Homo sapiens: one gene and its partners. The protein of the gene in region 5 interacts with the protein of the main gene of each other region in a pairwise test. Each region holds a gene or a part of one and is shown on either strand. Other genes may lie near its edges. The genes, in order: MYH7, MAL2, MKI67, GOLGB1, ECPAS, RNF168 and GAREM2.

The links.
Region 1: the proteins of ECPAS (region 5) and MYH7 interact in a two-hybrid assay, tested with the Homo sapiens proteins (one large-scale study listed by BioGRID).
Region 2: the proteins of ECPAS (region 5) and MAL2 interact in binary tests that used the Homo sapiens proteins (3 or more experiments, as listed by UniProt).
Region 3: the proteins of ECPAS (region 5) and MKI67 interact in a two-hybrid assay, tested with the Homo sapiens proteins (one large-scale study listed by BioGRID).
Region 4: the proteins of ECPAS (region 5) and GOLGB1 interact in a two-hybrid assay, tested with the Homo sapiens proteins (one large-scale study listed by BioGRID).
Region 6: the proteins of ECPAS (region 5) and RNF168 interact in a two-hybrid assay, tested with the Homo sapiens proteins (one large-scale study listed by BioGRID).
Region 7: the proteins of ECPAS (region 5) and GAREM2 interact in a two-hybrid assay, tested with the Homo sapiens proteins (one large-scale study listed by BioGRID).

Annotation. Positions count from the first base shown.
Region 1 is NC_000014.9:23,432,861-23,437,064, forward strand, and holds the start of MYH7 (myosin-7), read right to left. Parts: upstream 2,801-4,204; 5' UTR 2,760-2,800; intron 1,390-2,759; 5' UTR 1,334-1,389; intron 881-1,333; 5' UTR 873-880; coding exon 672-872; intron 368-671; coding exon 224-367; intron 1-223. UniProt on the Homo sapiens protein: Myosins are actin-based motor molecules with ATPase activity essential for muscle contraction. Forms regular bipolar thick filaments that, together with actin thin filaments, constitute the fundamental contractile unit of skeletal and cardiac muscle.
Region 2 is NC_000008.11:119,214,863-119,218,362, reverse strand, and holds part of MAL2 (protein MAL2), read right to left. Parts: exon of another isoform or gene 2,736-3,500; intron 1-2,735. UniProt on the Homo sapiens protein: Member of the machinery of polarized transport. Required for the indirect transcytotic route at the step of the egress of the transcytosing cargo from perinuclear endosomes in order for it to travel to the apical surface via a raft-dependent pathway.
Region 3 is NC_000010.11:128,112,924-128,116,423, forward strand, and holds part of MKI67 (proliferation marker protein Ki-67), read right to left. Parts: intron 3,085-3,500; coding exon 2,005-3,084; intron 680-2,004; coding exon 504-679; intron 1-503. UniProt on the Homo sapiens protein: Protein that associates with the surface of mitotic chromosomes and acts both as a chromosome repellent during early mitosis and chromosome attractant during late mitosis.
Region 4 is NC_000003.12:121,739,742-121,743,241, reverse strand, and holds part of GOLGB1 (golgin subfamily B member 1), read left to right. Parts: intron 1-3,500. UniProt on the Homo sapiens protein: May participate in forming intercisternal cross-bridges of the Golgi complex.
Region 5 is NC_000009.12:111,365,884-111,369,383, reverse strand, and holds part of ECPAS (proteasome adapter and scaffold protein ECM29), read left to right. Parts: intron 1-210; coding exon 211-349; intron 350-2,756; coding exon 2,757-2,862; intron 2,863-3,056; coding exon 3,057-3,145; intron 3,146-3,500. UniProt on the Homo sapiens protein: Adapter/scaffolding protein that binds to the 26S proteasome, motor proteins and other compartment specific proteins. May couple the proteasome to different compartments including endosome, endoplasmic reticulum and centrosome.
Region 6 is NC_000003.12:196,486,769-196,490,268, forward strand, and holds part of RNF168 (E3 ubiquitin-protein ligase RNF168), read right to left. Parts: intron 1,916-3,500; coding exon 1,839-1,915; intron 811-1,838; coding exon 631-810; intron 1-630. UniProt on the Homo sapiens protein: E3 ubiquitin-protein ligase required for accumulation of repair proteins to sites of DNA damage. Acts with UBE2N/UBC13 to amplify the RNF8-dependent histone ubiquitination.
Region 7 is NC_000002.12:26,171,699-26,175,887, reverse strand, and holds the start of GAREM2 (GRB2-associated and regulator of MAPK protein 2), read right to left. Parts: upstream 2,801-4,189; 5' UTR 2,668-2,800; coding exon 2,556-2,667; intron 2,027-2,555; exon of another isoform or gene 1,891-2,026; intron 1,594-1,890; exon of another isoform or gene 1,016-1,593; coding exon of another isoform or gene 910-1,015; intron 1-909. UniProt on the Homo sapiens protein: Probable adapter protein that may provide a link between cell surface epidermal growth factor receptor and the MAPK/ERK signaling pathway.

The DNA of each region.
Region 1 (4,204 bases), on a different chromosome or scaffold from region 5:
TAGAGAAAGATCCCAGGAGAGAAAGAAGAGAAAGGAAAACCTCTGCATGCACTCAATCTGAGTAATGCCAGTCCCCAGAGTGTTGGAATTGAACCAAGGATGTTGGGACGAGGTTAGAGTGTAACCCTGCCTAGACACAAACAGAAGACACTCTTGGCTCCTGGGGTGGACATGGATGGAGCAAGAACAGAGATCCCAACGTAGGGCCAGGTGCAGCACTCACGTAGATCATCCAGGAGCCGTAGCGATCCTTGAGGTTGTAGAGCACCGCGGGCTCATGCAGGAAGGTCAGCATGGCCATGTCCTCGATTTTGTCGAACTTGGGTGGGTTCTGCTGCATCACCTGGTCCTCCTTCACGGTCACTGTCTGCAAGAGCCCCCACCCAAGCCCTCCTGTCAGCCTGGGCTTTCCCTCCTTCCTCAAGAGGGTTAGGAGTTGGTGAGTGACAGGGCAATAGTGCTCAAGAGAGAAGGAACCAGGATCTCACAGGGAAGACAGAAGGGATATTGGGAAGGAGAGGGCTCTTTGGAGGGTCTGGATTCTTCCCCAAAGGGAAGGAGAATGGGACCATCCTCAGGTCTGCATGGGCATGGGGCATGGGTGTACCCCTCTCTGTCCACCCAGGTGTACAGGTGGCCAGGGTGGACTCTCACATCAGCCTGACACCCACCTTGCCATACTCGGTCTCGGCAGTGACTTTGCCACCCTCTCGAGACACGATCTTGGCCTTGACAAACTCCTGTTTGTCATCAGGCACGAAGACATCCTTCTTGAGGTCAAAAGGCCTGGTCTGCGCTTCTAGCCGCTCCTTCTCTGACTTGCGCAGGTAGGGGGCGGCAGCCCCAAAGACTGCCATCTCCGAATCTCCCATGGCTGTGCCTGGAGTGAGCAGAAGCTGGCTGCCCTCCCATCTGCCCATTCTTCCCTTCCCTCCCTGGGCTCTCCCCTTCAGTGGGAGCCCCAAAACCTAGCACCATGCTCAAGAGTCAAGAGGAGTTACCAGTGAGTCCCTTCCTCTTTGAGGTTACCCCTTAACCAGAGGAGCAGCCTAGCAAACCTGCCAGGGTAAAAGGAACAACTAACTATTGTTCAAGCTGGGGCTCTCCTAGGGGAAGGAAGAGCATTCTGAGCTCCCTGTAGGAGCAGAAATCTAACTATTTCCATCTCTGACCCTCATCTATCCCTGGACCCCCTGGTCACAGGTAAGTAGCTCTTGATAGCCAAGATATTCTCTCCAGCACATGGCAGAAACTAGAGTTCCATAGGCTGGCTTTGGGGCTCTAATGCCCAGTCTTACTAGATTTTCAACACTCTAGCTTCAGCTTTTCTTACCTGGGCTACTCAAGTGTGTCTACAGATGAGGAAAGGGGCCAAGGCCTGCAGGGGACCTGGAGAGAGGGAAGAGGCTGTGTCAGGGCAGGCTGTGCCCAACCTGACCAGTCCCACCTTCCTGCTTCTCCCTGGCTCTGTTCTTCAGCATCCACCCTCTTCCAAAACAAGGTGGAAAGGGTGGTCAGCTTCTCTGGTCCCATCCTTCTTGTTTTTCAAACCCTATTCCCTTTTTCCTCAAGAACTAGTTCTAACAGCTTCCTGGTGTCAACTCAACCTGAACCCTAATCCTCTTCACTCCTGCGAGATGGTCCCACCCCTGCCTGTACCCATCTAGTGGTACCTTTCTTTGAGCCATCTGAGAGACAACTAATGGTCACATTTGTTCGGCACTTTCCAGTCTAAAAGCACTTCAATGCACTTTCTCCTACTCAGTCTTCACCCCATTTGACAGATGAGGAAATCGAGGTTAAATGGCTTGCTTGGCCAAGAGCCCATGACAACAAGTGGGAGAGCCAAGACTTGAATGCAAGTCTGATGACTCTAAAGAGACTTCTTTTCCATCCTGTCCCCATTTTGTTGTCAGACTTTGTGGACATTCTCAGAGAGAAGACACTGTGGGCTTCCTCTCACAGACACACCCATCACATAGCCAAACACCCTCCACAAGCCCTCTGATGAACACTCATGCCTGCTGCTTGGGCATGCCTCTCACATGAAGACAGGCTTCCTTCCCATACCTCAATCCGCACCCCAACCCCAGGGTGCCATATATGCCTCAACAGCAAATGTGCACATTTCAGGATGTGTGCCACGTAAGTAGATCACATCACTGCGTGTTCTTCAGTACACAAAGACCTGGAACATCCTACACCCCCGTGCCTGTGAGTTCCTTCTGCAGAGGGTACAGATACTATAACAGTCATGACTCGTGGAGGCATAGACAAGAACCTCTGCATGCATGGACAGGGGTAGCTACACATTCCAGGCCTCACAGAATCACATGAAGGCATACACACTTCCTAGAATCCTTCTCCACCATTCTTTCTCCCTCCCTGCAAAGGAACCTCCTCGTTCACAGACGTGATCATACACCCACATCTCCCACTTGATATTTCTGTATCAGTCAGTGAGGTACATACCCTTTCTCACATTCAGACTATGCAGGCTTGTCCACACACACACACACACACACACACACACACACACCCTGTAATGCATATTGGTCCCATATGCTCAGATGCAGATATCTTCCCCTAGGAACTCCTGTGGCACATACGCCCATGTTTAGACCTGCACATGTGTGCCCAGTGACTGGACCTGGTACTCTGCATGAAGTCCTGCATGAAGCTTGCTATTCCAAGAGGAATCCCTTCCTAAGCCTGGAGCCCCCTTATCCCAGAGTAAAGCCTCCAGCTCCCGCTCCTACCTGAGAGCAGCAGGGAAAGACACAGAGCAGGACAGAGCTGTGGAGCCAGACCTGGTCTCAGGGGCTGTATATATGGGGCAGCAGGGCACCCCCACCCCCAACGGCACCCAGTCCCTAGCCGGATTTAGAAAGGGCTGTTGTCACTAGAAGCATTTCCCCCAGGCTCCCCCCCTTCCCAAACAGTGCTCCCCTCCCCGCCTCTCCAGCTAGGAAACAATTGGAAGTGGTCGTCATTGTTATGGCATGGACTGTGCAGGGTCTGAGTTCCAGGGGGCGGGGTGGCTCAAAGTGCAGCAAAAATATCTCCCAGGCCAGGCCTCACATTCCACAGCTGGCAGGAGAGGGAACTGACCACGACCACCAAGACCACAGGCAGCCAATGTCCTGGCTCTCCCGCAGGGCACTTCTGGCCCTGGACACTGCTCCCCCTCCAGTCCCCTGCTGCGAGGCCCCTGATGGCCTGGCCGCATTTCCACAGTGTCCTCCCTGCTCTCCTGGCCCAGGTCCTGTATCCAACTGGAAGCTGGGAAGGGGCTGAGTGTCAGCAGCAGAGAAGGGTAGGACAGAGTTGGGGGCATGGCCCCAGGGTGAGGCAGCTAGACTGGGGCAGCTGGAAGGACATTTCCTAGCCAGGTGGCAAGAACAATAACCATGGAGCTTAGAGATGGGGACTCTGGCTCAGGCACTGATTTCCTTGGACCAGCAGGCAATGTGTTGAGGTCACCAAGCCTCCGAGCCAGACAGGCCTTTAGCAATCCATCCAAGCACTTCATTTAATGGAGAGGGACAGTGCATTCTTTAAGGTTATACAGCTAATCGGGGCAGCAGGATTCAAGGTGGGAAACCTCAGCAGATGGGAGTGGAGCCCGGCCTGTGGAGGGTAGCCTGGAAAGGTGGGCTGGGATTCCAAAGATGTGGGGACCCCCTATGCGCAGAGAGCAGGACCCAGCTGCATTGGTCCTAGTTTGGAGCGGTTTGCCTGACTCACGTTCCTGGCTCTGCCCCACAGGTACTAAAGGCCTGAGCCCAGAGACAGACCCTCTCAGAGCTATAGATAATACAACTACTTGGAGCTGGAAGGAGACCCCTAAGACAGCTGTTGTCTGGCCCACCCAGCCTCAGCTTTATCCAGAGCTGGAGGCGACTAGTGTTCTGGCAAGTGAGGCAGAGTAACAGGACAGGAAAAATCTTCCCCTCTGCAGGCCTGAGGAACAGCCACAAAGGAGGGGAGGAAAGGGAGCTGGGGCCCAGCCTACGAGCACAGAACACAACCGATGCCATGCTCTTCTAGCAACGGGGCATGCAAGCTTGACTGGCTCCGTGTCTAGGCAACCACTGCACGATTTGGTGTGAAATCTCCCCCTTCTTCCCAAGCACAGCTCTTCCGCGCATGCGGATTAGTCCATCTGATTAGCTGTCAGCTTGGAAGGAGTGAGGCAGGCCTG
Region 2 (3,500 bases), on a different chromosome or scaffold from region 5:
CGTACTCAAAATTACAGCCCTTCAAACACCTCAAAGGCTTGGAAGGGAAACTAAATGCTGCATGAACAGGAGTCAGATTCACCTCCTCACTTGTGGGGTATGTGCTGCATGGAAAGGGGAGAGGGAAGGAGTGTAGGAATGCCCCCTCTCTCTCACTCAAGTAAATACATATGATACATCCCTAGAGCTGAGATTCTGTGAAATCCAGGCTCGCTTTGGAAGAGAGAGGATGGGCCAGAGAACATAATTGAGCCCACTTTGGAGGGCCACCATCCTCATTTTGAGACTGTCATACTGGTGTATGGATCACTCTGGCCTTGACACAGTTATTATTCCCTACTTTGTGATTTCCTTTTGACAAAAGCTACTTTTCTTCTTGAGCTTCCCAACTTGGCTCCAACTTAAACTTGGCTCCAGTTTTTTTAAGTTAAAAAACTGAACTTAAAAAATTGAGATGACCAATGCTCAGTATATTCACTTCCTCTAATTCCGGGCATTAGTGAGCTTAGAGTGTTTGCAAAACGGTGTAATTATCAGCATTCCTGTTCAGTAGAGACGACTCTGGAGGTGGCCATATTTTTAGAAGTAAAAAGCAGAACACAAAAATGGTTAAATCTGACAGAGAACAGATGATAAATACAGTAGCAACTGCAGAGTACACACTGTGAAGAAAGGTATTCGGAACTATTATATGTTTCGCCCACGTTATTCTCATCGTCTTGGATCTGAATCCATATTCTGACCCCTTCCCTGCCACTGCCTTCCACTGCTTTCTAGTGTTCTAAAAAATCCAATAATTATGTATAAAATAGCCAAAGGCACCTCAATTTGAAATTTCTTTAAGAAACTAAGTCAGTGCTTATGACGTCAAACCTCAAGCTCTAACAAAAAGACTACCTTTGCTTCCAGGCAATACAAAGGTAAAAACCTCCTAGGAGTAGGTATCAGCATCTCCCGGTGACTCAGTCACCTTTTATCTTCTTAACCCAACTTTAGGTGTACTGGGTACATACCAGAAGTACTCAAATATATTCTGAGTTGCAGTTATTAAATTGCTACACATTCCTAAAACAACTGATCTTCTTTCTGGTTTAACACATGTTTGTTATGTTTGCTTGGTCTCTGCAGACCAGAAAGGTATGACTTGGCTGAAACCCTACCATAAGAAAACCACGGAAGTATTTATCCACAAATCACACTAAACTGAATCCTCAGGGTTTGATGTGAAGACATGTTTTCACTAGAAACTGTGGAATGGGAAAAATACATAGTCCCACGGGAAAACATGCTCTTGAGCAAGTAGCAACTCTTGCAATTCTGGGTGCATGAATTACAGATTCTTAACTCATCTCCTGTTTGGACGGTCTTATGTTCCCAAAGGGTTCCTTTTGCAAATGCCCTTTTTCTTTTCAAATGTCACTTATTTCCTAATTACCTGCTTTTAAACATACCCTCTGACAGCTAAAAATTTTTTCAAACCAATTTGACACCTCCATCTTAGTATACCCACAAAGTAAACCGGCTAATTTCTACTGTGACCTATTTTCAATTAATGTTTGGAATGAGAACAGGAAAAGGTAAGTGAATTTGAAAGGATAAAGGCTGGCTAAACTACCCATAAGGGAAAACACTATTTAGAACTTTCCGTATTAAGCTCCCTCCTTCTAATTCTATTATCTATATATTGGATAATTCATTATTCTACTGCAGTGAGAATGAACACCCAGCAAACATAGAGGAAAAGCAAAAAAATATTTGTCTTCCAGTCTGGCTTGTAGAGTTAGAGTAAGAAGTTGAAGCTAATGGTGATAGCAGAAATAGTACTTAACATTTACTGAGCTCTTATGTTATAAGCACCGTTATAAGGGTTTTATTTGTGCCAATTTAATCCTCACAGACCTTGAGAGACAACATTATTATTCCTACTTTATAGGTAAGTTAATTGAGGTACAAATCCATTCATAACTTGTTCCTAGTTATATAGTTAATAAGTGTTAGACCTGAAATTTGAACTTGGCAATTGGCTTCCAGAACTTATGATTTTAACATTCTGCTATTCTGCCCCTCTCATGGTTTAGTGTTCATTCTAAAGCAGGGTTTCTACCCATATTCCATATGATTTCCTAAAATCATATAAAATTGGGTGGACAAGTACATATGCATTTTTCTGAGGACACAGTCCACACCTTTCATCAGAATCACAAAGGGGTATGTGGCCCCCCCACCCAGAAGTTCAGAACACTTTATCTACTTGTAACCCCTTCTATTTTAATGGATGTTTACTTATGGGGTGCTGCACAGGAAACATCATGGTTATAGAAGTGTTCAGTATATTCAGAAATTTATCAGCTAGAAAAAAAAAGATTATCTACAATTAGCTATATTTTACATACAATTCGCATTTTGAAAGATTTCCTTAAACTAGAAACATACTTAGCCAACACATACAATATAACTGGTAGATGTATTTACAAAGCAGCCCACACAAGTATGGATTCATTCACAATGCGACTGTAGATCACTGGTACCACTACAAGGCATACTGCTGCCCCCCTCCCCAAGCTCATCATCTTCCCTGTAATGCTTCTTTTCCTACCACCCTCTCTTTGCATTCCAGCCTCTACCCCTCATCCCCTGAGCATAGAGAAATGATCACACTTGACCATGTTTCTGCCTAGCATGCTGCCAGTAAAAATTCTGCTGCATAACTAAACTCCAGTTACCATGTTTTCCAGAAAGACTTCCCTGGCCAGGTGCCATCCCTCGGTGCTTCCACGGTTACTGACGCGTGTATTCTCCACAGCAATTACAACTGGATCAAAATCATGGATCTACATGCCCATTTCACCCACTAGACTGTGACGTCAGAGTCGGTGACATTGCCTTCAACATCTCCGTATGCTCATTACCCAGGGTGGTGCTTTCTACAGAAGGTCCTCAATCCATCCTCCTTGAAATGAATGGAAACCAACCGGCATGTGTAATGAATGGTTCCAAAAGAGAATGCTCTAGGAGTGCAGCTTGGGATGCTAGGAACACACTCCGGTCTGGAGCCCAGCTCACTCCCTGGTTCATGGTGGATGTCCAAAAATAGGCATGAAAACGAGTGAAGCGAGAATATGTACTTCTCAATTCTCAAGTTATTATTGGTGACACCCACCACCTAGTACCAGATCTCAGGAGGCTGAGATGGAAAGTTATGGGAAACTTTGTACCTCTTGCCAGTTGAATTCATGACACCCAATTTTAAATCTTTTTTCGGCCCCAAATTTGCCCACATGACCTATTTCTATTGTAACTGCCACTGGAACTTTTGACCAGGGTAAATCTTGTGCCTTCTTCCAGTGCCTCCTGCTCCCCTCATCAGTCCCCATCTGTCCTCTAACCATGCTGACTTCTGTCCAAACTGCTTCTGGACTGGCCCTGGCATAGACCTGCATTAGAGATGCAAGGCAGCAAGGTGTTTATTTATTTAGTTAGTTAGGAAAACAGAACAAATT
Region 3 (3,500 bases), on a different chromosome or scaffold from region 5:
AAACCCAGGAAGGACAACACAGCAAAGGAACAGGCAAGCAAATATTCTAAAGAGCTGAAGGTGTAAAAGGAAGATGTGCCATTGATTTTCCTTCACACCAGGTAAATGCCTTAACTATAGCCTTGTAACTCTAAAAGAAAATAAAACAATCCTTATGGGTCGACGTGGTAATGTATCCAGAATCTTTGTAATTGGCTATTCTGACGGTGCCTGCAGGTGATTACGCAGTGCTGTAAGCGTGGGTGTCTGGGAACTTCTGCACGAAAAGGACAACATCAAGGACTCCCCCGACTCGGTCGCATCAGCACCACGGTCAGGGACCCAGGGGCTCCTTTGCTGGTGCCCACATCAATGAGCTTTCATTCGTCTTTTTAAAAACTTGTTTCTTTAATAAATAAATAAAGGTCTTCATCATAATTCTACTTGTGTCAGTATTTGGAAAGGAATAGGTACCCGGTGTGTGAGCCACTGGGCGTGAATGGGATGCTGCTTGTTCAACTCACCTTGATGATTTTCTTCAGGACAGGTGGAGTGTGCATTACCAGAGACTTTCTTTTGGTTGGGGCTTCTCCCCTTTTGAGAGGCGTATTAGGAGGCAAGTTTTCATCAAATAGTTCAGGTCTTAGGTGCCCACCAAAGGACACACGCCTTCTTTTCAAAGGTATTCCCTCACTCTCATCTAAAGTAACGGATACAAATGTGGAAAGAGCAATGAAAAAACATACCAAGACTAGTGATTTATTTCACGTTAGCATTAAAGACAAACCAAGTGAAAAGTCATCGAAACACAGTACCTACAGCACGCCTCTATTCTTGCAATCCTGGTGAAGCTAAGCTACTAAGAGTTCCTAAAGGATTGCGGGAGTGGCCACTAAGACGTCAAGTTGCCACTGGACAGTACAGAGGCTTTCTTTAAAACATTGAAACATTATGTGTGGACATAGAAAGGAGGAGTCTGCAGCAGCAGATTTCACCTTAGAGTAGGGGGACGACAGCCAGAGAACTCTCTAAAGACATGCACTTGGGTCTCAGCCTGAGCCACCCAGTGACCAGAATGCATGAGCTGTAAAAACTCCTCCAGGTGGTTCTGAGTCAATTCACAGGAGCCCAGTCCCGGCCACACATTTTCCTGAGCCACCAGTTAATGTAAATCCCTTGCCTAAGTGATGCTTCCCCACTAGGAAGCTTGGTGGAATACTGAGACTGATGTTACAAACCTTATTTTATCGACAGCCTCATGCCCCACCGCTATAGGCCACCTGCAGAAACACAGCCTGGAGTACGAATACTGCGTCTGTGGCCCAGACAACTTTTCTTCTAATAGCCAGTCCCTAGGAGTGTAGGAAGCTCCCGAGGAGCTACCACACCTGCTATAAAGGTCCTACCTCTGCCACTTCCTGACTGGCCTTGGGTTGTGCGTTTCCTCATGTGTGACATAGCTCTAAAAAGACAACCTAGCCACGGGCACTGCTATTGCACCAAGGATCAAGTGTTCATGTGGCATATGGACTCATGGGTACAGTCCAGTGTTTACAGCAAATTGTTTGTAGGACACTCTGAAAACAGAGTATCAACACCTGAGAACTACCGCTATGTTTAATGATTACCAGTGATTTATTCCACATGACCAAACTCATATGATACAGTTGATTGTAGTTCAGAATTAAACTCCATGTGAAAAGCAATTATGATTATTCTCTTTTCTATTTTGTGATAGATGGAGGAGAATCAAATATTTTTGGGGCCACCCTATCTCCTTCAATAACCCCTGCTTCATGATTGCCTGACAACTTCCATCTCTTCTGTCATTCCTTGTTACAATTACCTAGGCCTTCAGTATTCATCTATTAGCGAAAACAGCGTGCGTGTCTGTCTTATCCCTGTGCCTTATGTGCTTACATTCTCTTCCACAAAGCTAATCACTACTGAAAGAATGAAGGTCTCACAGCTACATAGAAGGTGTTCATCTTTTAGAAAAATAAATTTACAATTAAATAAACTTACTAATGGAATCACCAAAGTTGTTGATATCAACTGAACTAAGACCAGGTAACCCAGAGCACATCTGTCCAGCTGTAGTGCCCAATTTCTCAGGCTTGCTGAGGGAATCCTTTTGGATCTTCCTCTCAACTTGAGTGAGCCACAGAGTTAAAAATGGCTCATTGTGAATTTCAGTTTCCGTAGGCAGAACTTCCACATCTGTAGGAATACTTCCTCTGGTTTTGGAAGAGAGATTTTCTGGCTTAGTGGCAGAGTCAGCTGCATCTTCAACTTTAGCTGGTGTTCGATTTCTAGTTGAAAGCTTCCTGGGAGTAAGAGTTTTATCACCAGCCTTGAAGCCTTCACTTTTACCCAGATTCACAGATTCTCTTCTACCAGTAGTATACAGGTCTTTGTTCTTATGTTTTTGTGGAGAATTTTGTTGCTGTGAATATTGTACAGGGGTCTTCATTTTAGCCGGCTCATAGAGAGGAAAGCTGGCGCCCACAGCCTTGCTGGGAGTCTGAACAGACTCCACGTCTCTTCCCTTCCCCTTGTTCTGGTCAAGCTCTTGTTCAGGTGAAGCAGGCTCTGCCACAGCGTGGCCGCTCCCACCAGATTTTGGTCTTGACTTACGCGAGACCAACAGTTGGGTCTCCCCCTGTAAACCATCAGCACTTTCTTTCTCTGTTGCGTAATCAGTTTGTAATCCAGATTTTCTACAATACTGTAGGACATTTTCTTTTTGTGATTTTACATCCAACTCTTTCTTCACTGACTCATAAAGCTTCCAAAAGGGAGATTCATTTTTTTTGCTATTGTCAAGACATTGTGTAGTGGGAACAGACTTCAATTCTCCATAACGGCTCACTAATTTAACGCTGGAAATTTCTTTAAAATCCCCAGAAATGGGATCAGCTGCATTTCTGCCATTACGTCCAGCATGTTCTGAGGAATGAACATTAGTTGTTCCCTGAGCAACACTGTCTTTTGAGTCATCTGCGGTACTGTCTTCTTTGACATTCTTGATATGTACCTGAGGATTTCCTGAAACTTTTCCTTCAGTGATTTTTGAATAGGCCTTGGAATCTTGAGCTTTCTCATCTTGGCAATGAATTATGAAATAAGAAACAGAAGTTCAGCATTTTCTCAATGATTAACATTTGTGGAATTCAATATTTTAATTGTTTCAGGTTGTCTTATAAGCTAGCTTTTACTTGGCCTACAAATTATTTAATGCCTAAAACTTGCAAGTCTTATGATACTAGTATTATGATACAAATATATAAATCATATCAGCTCCAATAACCAGTATGAAATAGCACATGCTATCTAACTACTGAGAACTGAGTTGACAGCTGAACAGGCAATTTTCTCATATCTAGAGTCTCTCCTAAGCATAGCATACCATCAGTCACCAAGGGAAAGTTAGGCATCTGTCTGTCGTTGACATGTTAAATGACACCTCCTCCATTTCTGACAGGCTAGACATTTAGCACTTGCATTCTTGTTGCCCCTTC
Region 4 (3,500 bases), on a different chromosome or scaffold from region 5:
ATCCAGTCTGTCATTGATGGACATTTGGATTGGTTCCAAGTCTTTGCTATTGTGAATAGTGCTGCAGTAAACATACATGTGTATATGTCTTTATAGTAGCATGATTTATAATCCTTTGGGTATATACCCAGTAATGGGATCACTGGGTCAAATGGTATTTCTAGTTCTGATCCTTGAGGAATTGCCACACTGTCTTCCACAATGGTTGAACTAATTTACACTACCACCAATAGTGTAAAAGCATTCCTATTTTTCCACAACCTCTCCAGCACCTGTTGTTTCCTGACTTTTTAATGATTGCCATTCTAACTGGTGTGAGATGGTATCTCATTGTAGTTTGGATTTGCATTTCTCTGATGACCAGTGATGGTGAGCATTTTTCCATGTGTCTGTTGGCTTCATAAATGTCTTCTTTTGAGAAGTGTCTGTTCATATCCTTTGCCCACTTTTTGATGGTGTTATTTTTTTTCTTGTAAATTTGTTTAAGTTCTTTGTAGGTTCTGGATGTTAGCCCTTTGTCAGATGGGTAGTTTGCAAAAATTTTATCCCATTCTGTAGGTTGCCTGTTCACTCTGATGGTAGTTTCTTTTGCTGTGCAGAAGCTCTTTAGTTTAATTAGATCCCATTTGTCTATTTTGGCTTTTTTTGCCATTGCTTTTGGTGTTTTAGTCATGAAGTCTTTGCCCATGCCTATGTCCTGAATGGTATTGCCTAGGTTTTCTTCTAGGGTTTTTTATGGTTTTAGGTCTAACATTTAAGTCTTTAATCCATCTTGAATTAATTTTTGTATAAGGTGCAAGGAAGGGATCCAGTTTCACCTTTCTACGTATGGCTAGCCAGTTTTCCCAGCACCATTTATTAAATAGGGAATCCTTTCCCCATTTCTTGTTTTTGTCAGGTTTGTCAAAGATTAGATGGTTGTAGATGTGTGGTGTTATTTCTGAGGGCTCTGTTCTGTTCCATTGGTCTATGTATGTGTTTTGGTACCAGTACCATGCTGTTTTGCTTACTGTCGCCTTGTAGTATAGTTTGAAGTCAGGTAGCGTGATGCCTCCAGCTTTGTTCTTTTTGCTTAAGATTGTCTTGGCTATGCAGGCTCTTTTTTGGTTCCATATGAACTTTAAAGTAGTTTTTTCCAATTTTGTGAAGAAAGTCATTGGTAGCTTGATGGGGATGGCATTGAATCTATAAATTACCTTGGACAGTATGGCCCAGTGTGCTGTAATTCTTATTCATACATATTCAAATTATCCTTTTAGCCAATGGGAACCTGTGTCCTTTGAAAGCTTCCTATCTTGTATGACAAGATGTTTCAGGATCATTTTGTACATTTCCACTTTAGAAATGGAATTAGCCATTTCTCTAAGAAAACCTTCTTTTAAAAACTTTTTTAAAAATGGGAAAGAGTATTTCAAGACCCCAATCTAGGCACTAGAGATATTCATTGCTTCTCAGTTTGTCATTACTTTTAAGCCTTTTTGGTGGACAGAGCTAGGAAAATATGTGAACAAATATAAAATACTGAATTGTCATTTCACACTGAGTGTTCCTATTCAGATTCAAAGATTAGTTTGTATTTCGGGGTTCTTAATTTCTTCTGTATTACATCTGTATCTTCTTTTCATAACTGAAAATACAGAATTAGTGTATCCATAATTATCATTTGCTTTAATTCTACATTTCACATATAGTAATCTAGGAGTGATGATACGAATATCACCACCACAACCACTTTAGACGAGATCGGGTGTGTTCAGGATGGTATGGCCGTAGACAACAACCACTTTTAATTATTGAAAACTGTTTAAAAATATTTTTTATTTTTTGCATATGCTATTCACATTCTTCCCGATTTTTTTTCATGGTTGTCCTATATATTGTCAGAGCATATAATCATTACATACTATGCTGTCTCTCCTCCAGTCTTTACTTAGTCTTAATTCTGTTAGTAACCGTATATTTAATGCTCACCACTAGTTCTTATAATGATGTTTCTTTAGTCATTTGGATTGCCTCAAGTTTTGCCTCTAGTAAATTCTTTAGGAAAGGCTTAAGGGAATATTCATATTTCATGAATTTTCTTGCTCGTTCATAACATTTTGTCTGTGTTTTTTATATCTAAAGTTTGTGTTTGCCAGAAATAGAATCCTTGGCTCACTTTTTCTTTTCTTGAATATCTTAAATTTGTAACTCATTTTTTTTTTCTGGCAAAAACATTGCTGTTGAAAAATCTAGTGCTTTTTTTTCTTTATCTTACTGGTCATATGATCTTTTAGCCTAAAGCCTAAAGGATTTTTTTAAGTCCAGTAATTTTACTAGAGTGTTTTGTTGGTCATTCTGAGTTGACATTCTGAGGTACATTGTGGGCTCTTTCAAGATGTAGTTTCAAATCTTTTTAAAAAAAATTTTCAAATAAATATTCTTGGATTATGGTTTTTCATATTTGTGCTGTTTCTTTGCTTTGCTTTTCTTCTTCAGGGAATCCTGTTATTCACATTACTTATCTTCAATATTTATCTGTTTCTCGCAAATCCTATGTAACTCTTAATTTCTTACATTTTTTAAAAATAAACAAATTATTAGGAATTATTTCAGATCACTACAGAAAGTTTACTACAGAAAATTTGCAAAGATAGTGCAGAAGTCTGGTGTATCCTTTGCTTAGTATTCCCTAAGATTAACATGTGACATTAGCAGTGTACAAAATTAAGAAACCAACATTGGTACATTAATATTAACTGAACTCCAGACGTTGTTCACATTTCACCAGTTTCTCCATTAATGTCCATTTTCTGTTCCAGGATTCAATTCAGGATATCATGTTGCATTTAGTTCATTTCTTTTTCATTTGTTTTTTAAATATGAAGACAATTGTAGAGTCACATGCAGTTGTAGGAAATAATCAGAGCTCTTTTATACACTTTGTTGTTTCTTCCAGTGGTAACATTTTGCAAAACTAATACATAATATCACAATTAGGATATTGAGATAGATATATTCCCCAGTTTTACTTGTATATTCATTTGTATATGTATGTATGTGTATCATTAAGTTTTGCAGTGTTATATCACCTGTGTAGGTTCCTGTATCCACTGCCACAGTCAAGATATTGAACAGCTGCAACACCACAAGGATCCCTTGTGTTGCCTTGTTATGACCACAGTCACTTCCCACCCCAACCCCTCTCTAACCACTGGTAATCACTCATCTTTCCTCCATTTCTAAAATTTTGTCATTTCAAAAATGTTATAGAAGTATGGAATTGTATAATATGTAACCTTTTGGGACTGGCTTTTTTTCATTCAATGTAATTTTCTGGAGATCCATCTAAGTTGTTGGGTCCATCAGTAGTTCGTTGCTTTTTATTTCTGAGAAGTATGTGATGGGATGTATGTACCAGTTTGTTTAACCATTTGCCTGTATATATCAGTTTGCTTAACCGTCTATTAATAGAAATAAAGCTGCTATGAATGTTTATATACAGCAGGTTCTCTTGTGAA
Region 5 (3,500 bases):
GATGCCTGTAAAGTATTGCCTAAATTTATTAGAGATACAGTATTCTGGTTATAAATTCTTGTTGTAAATAGGGAAACTTATGGTAGAGAATTTATCATTTAACTCTTGGTTAATATCTCCTGCCTTGGTTGGTACCCTGATAGCTTTAATAGTATACCTGTAACTTTGAAGAAGAAAATATTACATTTTCTTTTCTTTGATATATCCTAGAACTCACTTGAAAGCAGTGGGGTCCGGACAACCAAAAATGAAGAGGAGAATGAAAAGGAAAAGGAGCTCCAGCTGGAATATCTGCTGGGTGCCTTTGAAAGCCTGGGCAAAGCCTGGCCGCGAAACGCGGAGACCCAACGTAAGCACCAGAAACTGCATTTGAAGTGCTGTAACCAGAGGTTACTTAATGAGAGCGAAGAATTTTCTCTATGACAAATTATAGTTATTGTTTCTTATCGAGCCTGATTGATTAATAATGAGAATTATCCAGTGAAAGTTTTTTGTCTACATGAGTCTGTGATCTCACTGATCATTGTACCGCTGTAGCTAGGGCTGCTGTAAGAAAGTATCACAGACTGGGTGGCTTAGCAGAAATTTATTTTCTCACAATTCTGGAGGATAGAAGTCTGAGATTTCGAGATCAAGGCGTCAGCAGGGTTAGTTTCTCCTGAGACCTCTCTCCTTGGCTTGGGAATGGCTGTCTTCTCCCTGTGTCTTCACGTGGTCTTTGGTGTCTCTGTGCCCTAATCACCTCTTCCTATAAGGACACCAGGCACGCTGGATTAGGGCCCACTCATATGACCTCTTTAAAGGCTCTGTCTTCTATTTAATAATAATACAGTCAAATTCTGAGGTACTGGGGGATAGTATTTTAACATACGAATTTTGGGGGCACAGTTCCACCTATAATAACCATGATACATTTTATGCAGATAGTTTGATAGACGAGTTCTACTGATCTTCTTGATGATCATAGCTCTATTCAGAGGAATGCACAAAGTTTATTAGCAGGGTCTCTTTATCCTGAAATGAATGGTCTTGTTACCAAGTGTTCAGTAAGCAACTGAAATCCCTGTTTCAGTGAAAAACTCATTACTATTTGGACAATTTTCAGAACTGGACATGTATTTCCCAAAGATTAAATGAACAGTAAACCTCTATTATTGGATGAGGTTGCAGTTAGTTTGGAGTCCCCTGACAGGGCCTTAACCTTGGGATGATACTACCCTTTACACTTGATCTTAGCCAAAAGGCCAAGAAGTGATGATGCTACCCTTTAAGCTTGCCTTGTGTTGGGTCCTACAGTGCATCCTGCTGAAGATCTTAGTATTCGTTTTTTTTTTGTTTGTTTTTTTTTTGAGACAGGGTCTTGCTTTGTTGCCCAGGCTGGAGTGCAGTGGTGCAGTTCTTGCAGCCTTTACCTCCTGGGCTCAAGTGATCTTCCTGCCTCAGCCTCCCAAGTATTTGGGTCTACAAGTGCATGCCACGACACCCAGCAAATTTTTTTTGAAGAGGTGAGGTCTTGCTATGTTGCCCAGGTTGGTCTCAAACTCCTGGGCTCAAGTGATCCTCCCACTTTGGCCTCCCTCTCAAAGTGCTGGGATTATAGGTATGAGCCTCCATGCCCAGCGACAATATTATTGAATGTTATAAAAAGTACTGTTGATTATTTGTGATTGGATATGTCTAGAATCAGTTAAGGTTCTCTTTGAGCCCTGTCATCCTTTGTGTGAACTTATATATTTGCTATGTTTATAGGAAGGGTTTCCCAGAAGATACAAATTTGCAGGTGGTTTTATTTCTTAATATTATGTTATAGACTGCCATGGAAGTCCACTAATATGATGCCATAAAGAGTATTAACTTTTCCTTGATAGGTAGAGAAAGCTAAAGTAGGGAATTATATGAGAAAGATGATACAAACATAAAGCAGTTTATTTTAATATAAGACATAGAAGGTTGTTAATAGAAATGTGCATTTATTGAGAACCAAGGCCTTTTCTTTAGGAACTTAACTGTTACACATTGGCTTCTCATATATATCTACAATTTCTGGGTTTTGTTTCTTTAAAACAGAGAAAGAAATTTCAAGCTCTTATGAGACAATCCTAGTGCAGAATTCTAGATTTTTTATTGCCTCCCCCCATTTTTACATTTGTTTGAGCCCTACTAAATCCTACAGTAATTAAAAATAACTTCGTTGTTGAGTTTTCTGCTGATTCATCAGTTGGCATAATATTAATTATATAGTTATAATTACAGTTGCAGTTGGCATAACAGGTTTATAATAAAGCACTGTTGACTCTTGGTAAACCTGCAATTTGCAGAAGCTTGTGAGCATCTAGAGAGGAGCTTCTGGCCTCCAGAGTTCTTTCTGTGGCTGTCATTCAGGGAGTTTTGAGGGGCAAAGGGAGTGTGGTTAAAGTGCTTTCTCAGTTCCATGGAGAACCATATGCCTTGAAAGTGAATATTTGTGAACAATTATATTGCACCTTTGTGGGGGCAGTTTCTGATCAAGGAAATTTGTTTGGGGATTGAGTACAAAGTCATGCTGAAGTTTTTGGGGAAATTTCAATGGCTTTAATTAAAAGTATTTATTGTTTTATTTCTCTTTTTCCTGCTTTTCTCTCTCTTATCCTCCCCACCTTCTCTCTTTCTCTTTCCCTCTTCCTTTCTCTTGCTCTCTCTGCCTGTCCCTCATTTATTCCATCTCTTGTTCTTTTATACTGTCTCCTGCTCTGTCCCACCTTGTCTTTTTTTCCCAGGTTGTTATCGTCAGGAGCTGTGCAAACTGATGTGTGAACGGCTAAAACTCAGCACGTGGAAAGTGCAGCTAGGAGTCCTGCAATCAATGAATGCCTTTTTTCAGGGGTAAATTGCTTCATGGCTCAGTTTTTTATTTTGTTCCTCCCCGCAGCATTTTATGTATAATCAATGGAATTTTTATACATTTAAAAACTGGTAGCTAAAGTGACAGTGATACATACAGATAGAAATTGTGACAGGAAAGTTTTAGACTGTTTCTTAATAATTGGCATTTGTACCTTGCTTTCTGATTTGTATAGGTTAATGCTTTTGGAAGAAGAACATGCCGATCCTGAGGCTTTGGCTGAAATTCTGCTTGAAACTTGTAAATCAATCACATATTCTTTAGGTGAGTGTAGTAAACTAAAACTGATGAGGGAGTCCTAATTTTAAAGCTAAGGAGCTGAGCTTCAAATATTTCCTACTTTGTCTTAGGAACTAAATTTCTGAAATAGCTACTGGACTCTGCTACTTATTATACTCCATGTGTACCCCTTAACTGGAATATTTAAATCTGGAACTATAACAGGATTTTAGCATCTAGTTTAGAAAAACCTTCGTGACAAGTATTTTTACAAAATTGTTACTTGAAAGTAATTTCAAACTTACAGAATGGTTGCAACGACAGTACATGTAATACTCTGCAATATGTATACACTTTATGCAGAATCATTTGTTAACATTTTGTGCCATTTGCTTTGTCA
Region 6 (3,500 bases), on a different chromosome or scaffold from region 5:
ACATATAAAAAAGTTGTTAAACAACTTGCGGTGGCTCACGCCACAAACCCAGCACTTTGAGACGCCGAGGCAGATGGACGGCTTGAGCCCAGGAGCTCGACACCAGTTCAGGAAACATGGCAAAGCCCTGTCTCCACAAAAAAGTAGCCAGGCATGGTAGTGCCAGCCTGTAGTCCCAGCTACTCGGGAGGTTGGAAGGATCACCGGAGCCCGGCCGTCGAGGCTGCAGTGAGTCGTGATTGTGCCACTGCACTCCAACCTGCATGACAGAGTAAGACCTGTCTCAAAAAACAAAAAACCCCAAAAACCTGGATTAGAGCAAATATGTAACAATATGCAAAACAATTTTACTTTAAGTAAAGCAAAAATGTTATCAATAGCTTCTAATTATGGCAACGCCATCTCTTCTGTTCTTTGAAAACCACAGTCAAAGCAATCGGAATGTTAATAGTTAGCTTTCCGTATCAGCAGGTTCCAAACACTCAAATCCAACCAGCCTGGGGTGGAAAAGACAATATTTGTGGGATGCAGAACCTGGAAATACAAGGAGCTGACTCTTCCCATGAGCGGGTTCTGCAGCAGCGCATACCAAGGGATGACCATACCTTAGCGTTCCCTCCTAAAACTTACAATATCAATGCTTAGCTTTCTTGCCAGTTCCTCATCACTTTTCAGTTGTTCTTCCATCGCTCTTCGCCTTTTTTCTGCCTGTCTTTTTTCCTCTTCTTCCTCCTCTGCCAACAACCTCTGTATGTATTCTTCACTGGCTTTGTTTTCTTCTTCCTCGCTGGCCCGTCGCTCTGCCGCCACCTTAAAAGTGATTAATAAAGAGCAATCCTTCTCTGAACGTTTTGGTATACTTGCAATATTTCATAACAAGAATAGAAAAGTAGAAAAAGAACAAATTGGCAGAAATTTAAATGATCTCAAATGAAGTACAAATCTGGAGAAGTAGATTCCTGCAAGATAGCTGTCCCATCTCAGCCTCCCAAAGCACTGAAATTATAGGTGTGAGCCTCCACACCTAGCCTGAGATGTATTACAAGTGAAAATTATACACAAAATTTTGAAGACTAACAAAAAAAGAGAAAAATCTCTATTTATGTATAACTTCATATGTAATTAAAACATAATGCTTCACTATAAACACTGCTTTTTAGGTACTTTTCCTATTTAGGAACTTCACAGCTAGCCCTTTAACCTTTCCTCATCTAAACTCACACTCTACCACCCTTTTACTTTAAGCTCAAAACTTTGGGGAAATAAAAATATATCCTGGTATGGATTAAATTAGGAAAAAGAAGAATTAAAAAATTTTCTTCATATGTAAATGCTTAGGGAACACTATCACATAAGAGCATTAATTATGTAGAAGTAAATTACAGCAAAAAACAAAGCCCTTATAAAGTACATTAAAATTATCCATATTTTGGCCAGGCACAGTGGCTCACACCTATAATCCCAGCACTTTGGGAGGCCGAGGCGGGCGGATCACAAGGTCAGGAGATCGAGACCATCCTGGTGAACACTGTGAAACCCCATCTCTACTAAAAATACAAAAAAATTAGCCAGGCGTAGTGGCGGGCGCCTGTAGTCCCAGCTACTCGGGAGGCTGAGGCAGGAGAATGGCATGAACCCGGGAGGTGGAGGTTGCAGTGAGCCGAGATTGCGCCACTGCACTCCAGCCTGGGTGACAGAGTGAGACTCCATCTCAAAAAAAAAAAATTATCCATATTTCAAGATATACTAGTTATATAAGCACAAAAAACTAAATTAAAATCTGAAACTAAAAACACAGCAGAGAAATATTCCAAAAAAAAAAACTATTTAGCACCTACCTTGCTTATTTCCTCTTCATATTCTCTTCTCAGTTCCCCAGGTTTACTGAGCAGACGAACTGGCTGATAGTCATCAGCTATTTCATATCAAAAAAGAAAATAACATTATAGGCAACACAATTTTATGGTAACTTTGGTCTTCCATTAAAACGAAAAATTAAAATATACAACTATTAATAACTGCAGCAATATCTCCTTTTGGAATTCCATTTTTAACATTTATTTTATTTATTTATTTTAGATTTATTTTATTTATTTTTTTTGAGACAGAGCCTTGCTCTGCTGCCCAGGCTGGAGTGCAGTGGCACAGTCTCGGCTCACTGCAACCTCCACCTCCCAGGTTCAAGCGATTCTCCTGCCTCAGCCTTCTCCTGAGCAGCTGGGATTACAGGCATGCGCCACCACACCCAGCTAATTTTTTATATTTTTGGTAGAGTCAGGGTTTCACCACATTGGCCAGGCTGGTCTCGAGCTCCTGACCTCAAGTGATCCACCCGCCTTGGCCTCCCAAAGTGCTGCGATTACAGGTGTGAGCCACCACGCCCGGCCTGGAATTCCATTTTGTGAGGCCAGAGGTTTAGGGTTTTGGGTTTGAAATGGCATATGAATGCATATACTTAACCCTTCCTCTAAACTCCATTAAAATAACAGTAAAGGAATTTTTAAAAACTGTAATCCTACAACAGCAGAAATTAGCAGAGGAGGTTAACTGATTAAAAAAAAATGTTTTTTTTTTTTGAGACAGAGTCTTGCTCTGTCACCCAGGCTGGAGTGCAGTGGTGCAATCTCAGCTCACTGCAACCTCCGCCTCCCGGGTTCAAACAATTATTGTGCCTCAGTGTCCTGAGTAGCTGGGATCACAGGCATGCCCAACCATGCCCAGCTAATTTTTGTATTTTTAATACAGACCGGTTTTTGCCATGTTGGCCAGGCTGGTTTCGAACTCCTAATGTCGGGCAATCTGCTCACCTCAGCCTCCCAAAGTGCTGGGACTACAGGCGTGAGCCACCGTGCCCGGCTCCAGTTAAAAAATTTTTAACAAATTTCTAGAAAATGGGAAGGCAATGAAATAGAGATAATTGATACAGCAGAAATGAAGGAAAAGAAATCCTTGAAAGGGAAGACTACAGCTGAGGTAGAATTAGAAGGGAATCTGCCTCCTATTTGCCTAGAGAGAGGCTCATAGAGTCCAGAGTGAGTAACCGTGGGACTGAAAACAGAACTCGAGATTTATAAGCTGTTAAATCAGAATCCTCGACTTACCGGCATTTCTCCCTGGATATGGGTGCAGGTGCACACACGCATATTTCTTTAAAGAAACAGATCTAGAGAGAGCCAGAGCAGCTAATGTAATAGGTGGTGACCCAGAGCAAAGTCCTCTGCGATCGGGCAGTTAGGGATGGCAAAGCACAAAGGCCAGGTTTCCATCGGCTTGAACTCAACGTCTGCCCATCACCAATACCCTTCCACATACACAGAGCTTTTCTCCTGGGCCTCATTCTCAAACCTAAAAGCTAATCCAAGGATCGTCAGACATTTGAAATACATCTGCAGGACTAGGGAAACAGTAAGCTATACAAAGAGAAAAAATCATCACCCTGGAGTTGAAAGATAATTCTGGGTCAGAAAATAACCTAAATGTGGGTATGTATCCTCAACAAA
Region 7 (4,189 bases), on a different chromosome or scaffold from region 5:
GAGACTTTATTGAGCAGGAGATGCTGGAGCTGTGCTTCCCAGTCAGGGCCTAGGCCCTGCAAGAAGGGCCCTACTGGGGCAGTGGAGAGGGCCCGGACGGGACTGTCCCTTATAAGGTCCCAGCTGTGAGAGCTCCCCCAGAGCCACGGGTCGCTCAGGTCAGGAGAATGACAGGGCTTAGAGCAGCTGATTACTGCCTCTCCCAAGGGCAGCCCTTCCTTTCCACCCACTGCCTTGTTCAGGGGACCTCGAAGGAGAGGGGGGGAGTCCCCAGAAACCCCCAACCCCATCTCAGAGAAGCCACCCACTGCCTTGTCAAGGGGACCTCGAAGGAGAGGGGGGAGTCCCCAGAAACCCCCAACCCCATCTCAGAGAAGCAGCTCCTTGACACCCCCTCCCCACGCCCCCTCATCCTCCCAGTTACAGGGGTGACGGCTGAGGGTTGGAGGGGTTGAGAGAGCAGGTTTAGAAGGCAGGAGTGGGAGGCCCAGCCCTGGGGCCTGGGGGAAGCTGCTCTGGGGCAGAGGTGTTGGGAGTTGGGAGGGGTCTGGGCCTGGAGGCGCCAACCCCAGCAACGGTTTCCAGGGGAGCAGGAGGGGCAGCCCAGCTTCCAGGAGGCAGAAGGGGCTGTGTCCGGGCTGCAGCTGGTGGGGAGGGTGGGGGTAGGGAGTACCTCCTTCCTTTCTCCTTCAGGCACAACTTACAAAATTTCTGCCAATCAAATGGGAAATGGTTTACTCTGATGGCTGGGGGCTCCATAAAATGTGTACATGTGGGGTAGGCGTGTGTGTGTATGTGTGTGTGTGTGTGTGGCAGGGTGGCGGGCGGTTCAAGACGCACAGGAAGGGCCTGGCCCCCACTATGTGTGTGTTGGGGGTGTTGTCTAAGCTTTCCCCTGTACCTCCTCACCTCCGGGGGCCCAAGAAGCTCTCCTCCAACTCTGCTCCCTCCTCTGAGAGCTGTCCTGGGTCCTAGCCCCATCTTCACAGCCACATGGGCACACAGCAGTAATCATGGCTCATGACCACCAACAGCTGAACCACAATAGCCCACAGTGACAGATGCTTGTCACCCAAACAACATAACTCAGTCTCCGGCCAAGGGGCCCCTCCCAAATGCACAGGCACACAGGGACCTACCCTTCAAGCCATACAATTCTGACCAGACATTCACACCCTGATGGTGACCCAGCCATAGCCACACACTGTCACACACAACAGACAGCTGGGCCATCACACCAGTTGTTCATTCACTCACCCATTCATTCAATCCATAATCTTTATTGGGCAAGGATGCCTGGTCTCAAGGAGCCCACAGCCAGGTCTAAAGACAATAAACTGACTGACCATTATAATGGGGTGCACAGTAGGAGACAAGCCAGAGTTGGCATGAGGTGGCCGGGGAGCCCAAAGGAGGCCCTACGCAGACCGAGGAGCTCAGAAAAGCTGCCCAGAAAGGGGAGATGCCAAAAAGGATGTGTGGGAAGTGGCCAGAAGACCCCAGGGCAGCGACCTCCATTCACAGGCAGACACAGTACCACACTCTGACCACTCGGCCGCGAGCCAGAGAACTAGACGCTGGCCTGCCCGACGGCGGGGCGCCGATGCTCCCCCATGAGCCTGCTCCCGGGACAGCTGACGCCCACTGTGCCCACTCCTGGCCGCCACGGAGGAGGGGCTGCCGGGCCCCACGGGGAGACGAGGAGCCTGCGGCCGCGGGCCCCATTAGCATTCATGGAAGCGAGTGTGCCAACGCGGGCCAAACCCCTATTCTTCTCACACACAAAACCCCCGGCCTGGCTGCCAGCCCCGGCTACCGCCCATCCCCCAACCAAGCAGCACCCCCCTCCCCCCAAACGGTCCCCTCGCTCCATGCAGCCTCCGGGCGTACCCTCTCGGGCCCCCATGCGTGGTTCCATCAGCCGAGCGGCTGGGGGCCCCAGGTCCTATTAAGAAGTGGGACAAGATTCGGGGGAGGGCCGGGAGTTTGGGGGTCACGCCGGGCAGCAGACCCGGCTCCCGCCGGCCTCTCCCGAAGGTGGCCTGCCCGCCCCAGGACCGAGGCTGCTCCTAGGGAAGAGAAAGGAGGTGCAAGAAGGGTCCCCAGAGGGGCGGAGCAGGACTAGGGGTGGCGGTAAGGGGAAGACAGAGTCCGGGTCCCAGGGATGAGGGAAGACAGAGGTGAGAGGCCAGGGACAAAGGGACCAAGGGGGCGCGGCCGGGGCGGGGGGCCCAGGGGCAGCGGGGGAAAGGGGGGCAACCGACGGGGCGGGAGCAGGGGCTCGGCCCCTTTCCGGACTCCAGCTGGGCGGGAAAACTCTGTCCCGGGCCCTGTCCCCGGTGTCTGTGCCTGTGCTTGTCCGCGGGGCCCAGGAGGCGGACCTGGCGGGTGGGCCCCGCGTCTCCCGGGAGGCGCGCCAGGAACCGCTCGGGGCCCACGCCGGGGAGCTGGGAGGGTGCGGGTGCCGCACCCTCCTCACGATCCCTCTGGCCCCTGGCTGGAGAGCCCACCATTTCCCCGCGGACCCCGGTCCCCATCTCCAGCGACCCCGGTACCTGGCCCAAGGCAGGCGAGCGTGGGCAGGCGGCAGCGGCTGACGATGAGGTCGAGCGGGAAGGCGCCCATGCTCCAGCGCAGGCCGGCCAGCCCGGCCGCCAGCTTCTCCATGGCATGGGCGCCCCGGGGCCGCCGTCCCGGGGCCCCGACGGTCAGTCCCGCGCGGCCCAGGCTCTCGCGCCCGCCGCCACCTCCCGGGGCCGCCGCGGCGCTCGCCGCCTGGCAGCCCCGCCGGGCCGCGGGCGTCACGTGGCCGGCCTCCCCGCAGGGCGCCGACCCCGGCCCCGCCCCCGGGCCCCGCCCCCTCCTCCCGGACCCCGGCCCCCTCCTCCCGGACCCCCGCCCCCTGCTCTGTCCGCCCCGACCCGGACTCGCCGCCGGACCCACCCCCGGACCTCCGCCCCCAGCCCTGTCCGCCCTGCCCCGCCCCGGCCCCCTCTCCTCGGACCCCGTCCCCGCGCCCCCTTCTGGGACCCCGGGTCCCCAGCCCCGCGCTCCGTCCGCCCGCCCCTGCCCCCGCTCCCCGGCCCCCACCCGCCGCTGCCGCCAAGCCCCGCCTCCCCTCCCGCCAGCTTCCCCGCGCCCAGGTGACGGCGGGTGATGGAGGACCCCAGGGCGGGCGCCTGGAGGGACAACGAAGTCCCGAGCGGCATCTGCGGAGTCGGCGCGGGGTCGGCCTCCTCCTTCTGGCTGGGTGTGTCCGGGCCCCGCCGCTCCCCCTCGTGCTGGCCTCCCGGAGGCCGCGCCCACCCGCGCCCTGTCCTGCTCCGCCGCCCAAAGCTCGGGTTCTGAATTCTGCTCTTCCAGGACCTTCATCACCTCCGGCTCCGTGGAGCTGGGCGAGGCAGCCTCCTTAACCCCATTTTACTGATGAGCAAACTGAGGGGCAGAGGTCAGGTGGCAGCCAGGACTTCAACCTAGGTTGGACTTCAACCCAGATTTGACTCCAACCCTACTGCCCAAGAGCACCCTACAGCGCCCCACCATAGAGCACCTTCCACGTTCCCAGCGCCCCCTTAGCCGATAGCCCTGTGTCATGTAAACCGGCGCTCCAACCCTTCCACAGCACGCGGTGTGGACTGCGTCCATTCTGCAGATGAGGAGGCCGAGGTTCGAGGGCGTAACCGGTGCTGCGGTCTCCTCTCGGATCATTACAAGAACCGCCTTCCTCCCCCACCGCCACCATCCCTTCTCTCTTTTCCTTCTCTTTTTTTGAGACTGGGTCTCACTCTATCACCCAGCCTGGAGTGCAGTGGCGCGATCTCGGCTCACTGCAACCCCCACCTCCCGGGCTCAAGCGATCCTCCCACCTCAGCCTGCGGAGTAGCTGGGATGACAGGCACCTGCCACCACTCCTGGCTAATTTTTTTGTATTTTTAGTAGAGACGGCGTTTCACCATGTTGGCCAGGCTGGTCTTGAACTCCTGACCTCAAGCGATCCTCCCGACTCGGCCTCCCAAAGTGCTGGACTTACAGGCGTAAGCCACCGCGCCCAGCCTTCGTTCCCTTCTTTTAATTTGCGTTTCCTTTTCTGCTGTCCTCACCTCTTCCTTCCAAGCCCCCTGGACTCCAGCTCGGGGCCTCCCTTTGGGACCCCCTTCCCAGAAGCTTAGATGGCCTCGGCCTCGGCCTC